Linked DNA regions of Homo sapiens. The protein of the gene in region 1 interacts with the protein of each later gene in a pairwise test. Each region holds a gene or a part of one and is shown in the gene's direction. Other genes may lie near its edges.

Region 1 (3,904 bases):
CTTCCAGTCGCCATAAATGCTTAGGAGCTTGACCGCACCACCCCTTATGAGCTACTTAACCGCAGCAAGTAACTTCATCTTTCGTTCTTTTTTTAAATTATTATTATTATTATTTTTTATTTTTTGAGACTAAGTCTTGCTTTCTCCCCAAGGCTGGAGTGCAGTGGCACGATCTCGGCTCACTGCAACCTCTGTCTCCCAGGTTCAAGTGATTCTCCCACCTCAGCCTCCCCAGCAGCTGGGATTACAGGCGCGCGCCACCACACCCAGCTAATTTTTGTACTTGTAGTAGAGACGGGGTTTCACCATGTTGGCCAGATTGGTCTTGAACTCCTGACCTCAGGTGATCTGCCCACCTCAGCCTCCCAAAGTGCTGGGATTACAGGCGTGAGCCACCACGCTTGGCCTAACTTCATCCTTCTAAGGCTTCAGTTTCTTCCCTGTGAAATGGGGCAAAAAATAACCCCATAGTGTGGTTGGAAAACTGAAGTAATACATATAAAGTGCTAAGAACAGTGTCCGACACATTGTAGGCCTCGATTCATGTTAGCTATTATTATTATTTTAATTTTCACCTTCTAATTCCCAGCGTTTAGCTCTTGGTAGATGCTTAATTAGTATTTGTTGAATGAATGGAGAATTAATAAGGAAAATGATTTATTCCTGGGGCTCGACCTGGTTTTAGAAAATTAAGTATTTAGCAGAAGGACAAGTAAGGGCTCTCTAATAATAGTTATATTGTTGGGTGCCCAGGGACTCCAAACTGACCTGGTTCACTCAAGAAAGAAAAATGACAGATTCCAAGTTGTTTCACGCGCAACTTTGATGCTCTTCCAAATCACACGGAATGAATGCATGCGCACCACCAGGCAGGGCTGCCCGGGTGCAGGCGGTATCTCTGGCAGTGGCCAGAATGACTTCCACCAGCCTACCCACCTACCCAGGTTGGCACTCAGGCCCTAGACCCTGCGGCGCGTGTGGAGGCTGGGGAGGGAGTAGGAATCCGGCGGCAGCCACGTGGGCCCCTTCCGCCCGCTCCCCACATCCTTTGTTTCCCACCGGCCCTGGCTCAGGAAGCTCTTTCTGCGAGTCACCGCGAAGGGGCGGCCCGGGAGCCTGGAGAAGCTATTTCCGTGCAATCCGGGCGGGCGGCAGGCGCGGGGGGGTTGGGGGGGCGTGGAGGTGGAGGCAGCGCAGAAGGCCCAGTGTTTGCTTTTATTTCCTCCAACAGAAGGTTCTATTTGTGGAAGCGAACAGACGCTGGGGATTAGAGCTGGGAGGGGGCAGGAAAAGGGAAAAAAAAAAGCCACATCCACTACCACGCACAGGTCTTCCCCGGAACTACCGCGTGGGGGTGAATGACTGATTCTGGAATTCATCACCTCCCTATCCCCCTCCTTCCTCCGGCTGCAGCCGGGCCTCGGCGGCGCCCACGGCTCCAACCGGAGCTCCCCAGGCGCTGGGCGGTGGGGGGATCCCCGGGGCGAAAGGCGTCGCCGCGGGGCTGCAGCGAGCGGCGGGTGCAGAGAACCGTGGTGCGCGCTCCCGCCTCGCGCCCGCAGCCCATTGTGCTTACTGTGAATGAGGCGCGCGCACCAATCAGCGGTCGCTTCGCTCCCCGCAGCCCCGTCCCTCCCGCCCACTTCCCCGGGCCCTTACGTCACGGGAACTTTTCCTCCGCCCCCTCCTTCGGCTTCTCCGCTGAGCTGGGGGCCTGCGGGAGGGCGCGCGCGCCGCCTCCTGCCCAGCCCCTCCCAGCCCTGGGGGCGTGTGCGCGCGTCCAGGCCGGCCCGGGACGCACCACCTGCGCCCGAGCGCGCGCTGCCCGGAGCATCCCCAGCCCTAAGTCCACCCCCATTCCCCCCACCTCCTACTCCCTCTCCCCTTCCCCCAGTCTCCTCCCTCCGCTCCGGAGACTGCTCGCTGGGCGGCGGGGCCGGAGTCGTCGCAGCCACCTCATTGCACAACCCGGCTTCCCAACTGTTTACACAGCCCGGCCTGTGAGTGTGTGTGTATACAGCGTGAGTCACCAGGAGGCGGAGGAGGTGGAGGAAAAGGAGAAGGAGGAGTGCACTGGCCGGGATCGGTGCAGCGCTCACACTCACTCACAGTCACTCTCTCTGAGCGCGTCTCGCTCGCTCTCATACACGCCCGGAGCCCAGGAGCGCTCAGGATCCCGAGCGCCGCGAAAAAGTTCCCCCGGCTTTTGCTGGAGACTCATCGCTTTGGGAAGTGCATTTGCTTCGTGGCTCCGCCGAGCCTGCTGAATCCTGTCCTCGCGGCTCGGGACCCCGGGATCGCTGACCGCTGCCGCCGCCGCCTCTGCCTCCCGGACTATCGGCAGCCTCGGCAACAATAGTGGCGGCCGCCCCCAGCGAGGCTCCGGGAGCCCTTGCCTGCGGGGGTCCGGGGACTCGAGCCGGCCTCCGCCTCCCGGACGCACAGCCAGCGTGGTCCCCGCGTGCAACGCGAGCGCCGGGGAGTGGCTCCTGCTTTGCCCCTCGTGGGGGCCGAGCCAAGACCAGTCTGCAAACTCCATCCCGCCGGCTGGAAGAAGTCGCGGAGCCGGCACCAAACCCGCAGCGTCTTCCCGCGCGGATCCCGGGACTTAAAAAGCCGGGGCCACCCCGGCCCAGGACGGGATGCGGGTCGGTCCGGTGCGCTCTGCCATGAGCGGCGCCTCGCAGCCCCGCGGCCCGGCCCTGCTCTTCCCAGCCACCCGAGGCGTCCCGGCCAAACGCCTGCTGGACGCCGACGACGCGGCGGCTGTGGCGGCCAAGTGCCCGCGCCTCTCCGAGTGCTCCAGCCCCCCGGACTACCTCAGCCCCCCCGGCTCGCCCTGCAGCCCGCAGCCCCCGCCTGCCGCTCCGGGGGCCGGCGGAGGCTCCGGGAGCGCGCCGGGGCCCAGCCGCATCGCCGACTACCTGCTGCTGCCCCTAGCCGAGCGCGAGCATGTGTCCCGGGCGCTGTGCATCCACACTGGACGCGAGCTGCGCTGCAAGGTAGGCGCTCCCGGGCCAGGACCCGGCTGGGGTCGGGGGCGCGGGACGGGGTGGTAGGCAAAGGTGCTTGGGGTCCGGCCAACGCTTGGGCTGGGCACAGGGCGGATCAGTAGATTGGGTCAGATAAGACGCCATTTGACCAGGTTCACGTTTTTGTGGATCGAGGGGTTTCCCATGGAGTGATATAATGGGGGCGCCTAGAGGAAGTGCAGTGTTCAGTGGCTTTCTCTATCTGTTCCTTTCCTCAGCGCCCAGTGTAGCGCGTGGCGTTCCATATAAGTTGTGGAATTGAAATGGATTCCAGGGCCATGCCATTCCCCTTCTCTCATTCTCCTCGCTCTCCACCCCCCCTCCCCCGCCAATGTCCTGGAAGGACGCCCTTTAGTGGGTGCCTCCTAGGAGCTTGGAGCAGCTGGCAGCTCTCTTGCCGGGCTTGCACGGCACCCGGGCTCAGTTGTAGGTGGTAAGGGGGCTGGAAGACTGTGTCCGGCTCCTGCCTTGGGGATTCCGAATTGAATCCGCGCTGAGACTAGAACACGCCCTCCCAAGGGAGCAGTCCCAGAGTCATCCACCCGAGGCGGAGGAATCTGCTCGGAGTAGAAATGTTGAAAAGCCCACACCGGCCAGGAACCCTCGCTTCGATTCACTTTATTTTCCAGCCAGCGATTTTCCTTTGAACATAGGGATCCCATCCAGGAGGAGGAGACACAGCTCCTAGAAACAGGATCCGCCGGGTCCTCCTCCTGCGCGGGTAGACGCAGAACGTTCCCACAGTCTACTTTATGCGAGCGTGGCACCCCTGCTTGAGGCACCCCAGAGCACCCTCGGGCCGCTCCTTTTCACCCGAAAGATAGGATCACCCCCCAGTTAAGTCGCTTCTGGGTTTTCCGCAACTCACCTGA
Region 2 (3,904 bases), on another chromosome or scaffold:
TCAGCGCAGAGTGATTCATCTAGCTGATAATTAGAGCTCTGGAAAACCCAGAACTCATTTTTGTCAGAGTCAGGGCTTCCGGAATCCCTAGGCTTTTTGTTTTGTCAGAGAGTGGAGCTTGCTGGGCTGGGGCCTTCTTTATGCCTGTCTTTTGGTCACCCACCTCATTGAAGCCCTTCAACTGAGATGAGTATGAGTGCTCGCTGGGTCTTGCAAAAAGCTGTTTCTATAACTCCGAGTCCTCACAGTGATCCCCCAAGCGTTATCCCTGTTTGGACAGAAGGGGAAGATTGGGCAATTTGCACATAGTCACCCAGCTTGTAAGTGATGCAGCAGGGATTCAAAGCCAAGTTTTTTGGAATCCATCAGACTTGATTTGAATCCTAGCCCTGCCATTATTAGCTGTGTGTGTTTGGGCACATTAATTTCCTTCTCTGAGCACTGGCTTCCTCAGCTGTAAACAGCCTCCTACCTAATACTGTCTCAAGTGCTCCATGCAGAGTGTGGCACAACGGTGGGAGCTGTCCTGATTACTCTTGTTAGTCAGCCCTATCAGCAGCTCAGTGGGCACCAGGCATTCAGAGACAAAGGACACAGGTAGAGGCAGCCAGACTTCACTCATATCAGCTCTTGTGTCCTGGCACTGCCTATGTGGAGATGACAAATGCACATACACACAAGTGGCCACACACCCTAGGAAAACCCAGCAGTGCACACAAGCTTAGACACGTGTGCCCACACATGGATATAGAGTGACCCAGGGGACAGCTGGAAAGACAGCCAAGAGTTAGACATCATAAGCAGCAAACACCCTGACTCACACCTCTGGGACAAGGGAGTGGGGCTACGGCCGCTGGTGCTGCTGCCACTGAGCCCTTCTAGCTGCTTCTGCATGCCAAGGGAGGGAAGCCAGGCTCTTAGAGGGCCCCAGTGAGTCACTTGCCTGATGCAATCCCTTTAAAGGGCTCATCTGCTGGTGCAAGAAGCTGATTCATGGAGGGCGTGGTTGCTGGAGGAGGAGGAGAAAGGGACCGAAACTGCAGCAGGAGGAACTGAGGTTAGATAGCTGTAGTCGCTAATAGGAACGCTTCACTGTAAACCTCCCTGGTCAAGGCTTCAGGGATCTCCAGGTTGAAGGTTGCCATCCTCGGGGTTTCTACAAAGGCGACAGACCTAGAGGGAAATGAATTATGAGCGCTGCGACAGGAATTTCTGTCTTTTATTGAGCCTAACTGCAGGGCTTTCCTCACAGAGTTCCACAAACCGGGAAATGAGGATCAAGGATGAGTCACTTTTCTGATAAATACACTACAATTGGCCGATCTTCCAACCGCTGGGGACTTCAACCTCGGCAGGGGGAGTGTAGGGCCCGCGAGGTTCTGTGGGGTCGGGCGGGGCGGTGCCTCCGTCCCAGCCTCGCCGCAGATATAGATCAGCAGTAAGTACCGCCCCATTAGAGCCTCGGCCTCCAATCGTGTAACAGGTTTCGCCCAGACCCCACCCTGAACCAATCCTCAATCGGACTCTGGCCTCTTGCCTGAAGTCTTCCGCCCATCGTCAAGATGGCGCCCCAATCCGAAAGCCGTGGGGCTGGAGACGCAGGCGGAGGGCGGGGCCCGGGGGGGCGGGGCCGCGGCTAAGGCTGGGGAGGAGGGGGGCGGTGCGTCACTTCCGTTGTCAGGTGGCGGCGCCGCAGCCATGGAGGGAGGCGGCGGCGGCGGCGGCGGCGGCTCGGGTGGCTGCGCTGGGAGGCGGCGGTGAGAGGCTCGCACGCCTCCAGCCCGGCCCCGGCCCCCCGGGAGGGAGAGCCGAGCAGCCCCGGCTCTGGGCTACGGACTATGGGCGAATAGCTCTGACCACCCGGCGAAGGTGAGGGCAGGGGTCCAGGAGCGGGGAGCCGGGTGGGGGTTGCGGGTAGGCGGGGCGGGCCCCGGCGGCCGCGGCGGTGGAATCGGAGTGACAGCCTGAAGCCATCTGAGTGCAGCAGAAATGGCCCCGGCGAATGCCCCCTCCTCCGCTGGGGCTCTGCCCTTCCCCGGCGGCAGGGGCGAGGGCTGCCTCGCGCCGGGTACCGGGAGGCCGCGGGAGCTTCAGTCCCCGCCGCAGCTCTGGGAAGTGGGCACTGCCAGCTTTGCCTAGAGTCACCCAGCCAGTGAGTGAAGCAACCGGCGTGTGAATCCAGCCAGATCTTTCCAAAAAGACACCTTCTGCCTCTCCGTGTTTCCCTCCTAATCCCGAGGGTGACTTGATAGTTAGAACGAGTCCCCAGGGAGGGCCAGCCAGGGCTTCCTCCAAGAGCCCTCACTCTGGCACGGGCGCTACCGCTGCTGGGGAATTTTCATATCCCGGGCGGCGTTCAGGTACGAGTCACAGCTACCTGCTTGCCAAGGCCACGTTTGGCCGGCCTTTTCCAAGGAGAGCTTGCTGTGGTCAGTGTTTCACCTGCCGAGCCGGTCAGGCCCGCCCATTCCCACGCCACTTGGCCCCGCCTTCCAGCCAGTTAGGTAGGGACATTCGGATTCCTGATGCCGAGTTTTCTGCCCACCCCAATCCCCAGGTTTGAAGCCCTTTTGTTAGCGGAAGGAAGAGATGACAGCCGCCCTCTGTGTGGCAGGATAGACTTTGCTCTGTTTTAAGTCACTGGAGGAAACCGGTTGGCTTTGCTTTGGTTTTGAGAACCAGTGGGGAAGAGGGTAGGCATACTGGGCTGGGCGCCTTTCCCTCTTTGAGTAGTTTTGCGTGAGATAAGGAAGAGCAGAATGTGTAATTGTAGGGCCAAAATAATCTTGTTTGTAAACAGTGCCTGTGAGCTCCTTTAGTGCTTCCTAATGGCCGTGCTGTGCAAGTTGTTGGTTGGGTTAATCTAGACAGTCCTCATTCATTCATTCATTCATTTCTCACATGACCACAACAAGAGTCCTTGCCTAGAGGCAAGTGCTAGACAGCATAGTGGTTAAGAGTAGGCTTTGGAGCCAGACTTCCTGAGTTCAAATTCTGGCTCAGCAACTTTCCAGCTGTGTGTACCTGGGCACATTGCTTAGTCTCCCTGTGCCTCAGTGTCTTCGTCTATAAAACAAGGATGATAACAGAGAGAGATATTATGAAGAGTAAAAAGTTAACATGTAAAACATACAACCATGTTTGCCACGTAATAAGAATTCAATAAATGTTATCTATTTTTATTTCAAGGAGCATACAGTCTAATTAAGGGAAATTGACCTGTAAACAAATGGTTGAAATGTGGTCTAAAGAAGCTAGTAGTGGCTGGGCGCCGTGGCTCATGCCTGTAATCCCAACACTTTGGGAAGCCGAGGCGGGCGGATCACCTGAGGTCAGGAGTTCGAGACCAGCCTGGCTAACATGGTGAAACCCCATCTCTACTGAAAATAGAAAAATTAGCTGGGCATGGTGGCACAGGCCTGTAATCCCAGCTACTCGGGAGGCTGAGGCAGGAGAATTGCTTGAACCTATGAGGCAGAGGTTGCAGTGAGCCGAGATCAAGCCAGTGCACTCCAGCCTGAGTAACAGAGTGAGACTCTGTCTCAAAAAAAAAAAAAAAAGAAGAAGAAGAAGCTAATAGCAGCAGCAAGAGAGTACTGTGGGAGCCCAGTGGAGAAAGGGAGAAAGCTGTGAGCTCAGCCTTGGGGGTGGGGTGGGGACGGGAGTGTGCCATGAAAAGGCTTGGCAGAAGTGATGCTGGAGCTGAGTCTAAAAGGAGAGGAGGGGAGGCTTAGCCAGGTGAGAATGAATACTTTGAGAGCGAGATAGACAAATAAACTCATAGTTTATTCCAGAAATCTCAGATTGTTCAATCTAGTGGTATGGAAGTTGATATGGTGCAAGTGAAGCAGTATAGGTTCATGAAAGAATGCCATATTAGCAATTTGAGATATCATGCCCAGGG

What was found.
Region 2: the proteins of TRIB1 (region 1) and STK40 interact in binary tests that used the Homo sapiens proteins (3 or more experiments, as listed by UniProt).

Annotation. Positions count from the first base shown.
Region 1 is NC_000008.11:125,428,261-125,432,164, forward strand, and holds the start of TRIB1 (tribbles homolog 1), read left to right. Parts: upstream 1-2,097; 5' UTR 2,098-2,642; coding exon 2,643-3,002; intron 3,003-3,904. UniProt on the Homo sapiens protein: Adapter protein involved in protein degradation by interacting with COP1 ubiquitin ligase. The COP1-binding motif is masked by autoinhibitory interactions with the protein kinase domain.
Region 2 is NC_000001.11:36,383,688-36,387,591, reverse strand, and holds the start of STK40 (serine/threonine-protein kinase 40), read left to right. Parts: upstream 1-1,667; 5' UTR 1,668-1,869; intron 1,870-3,904. UniProt on the Homo sapiens protein: May be a negative regulator of NF-kappa-B and p53-mediated gene transcription.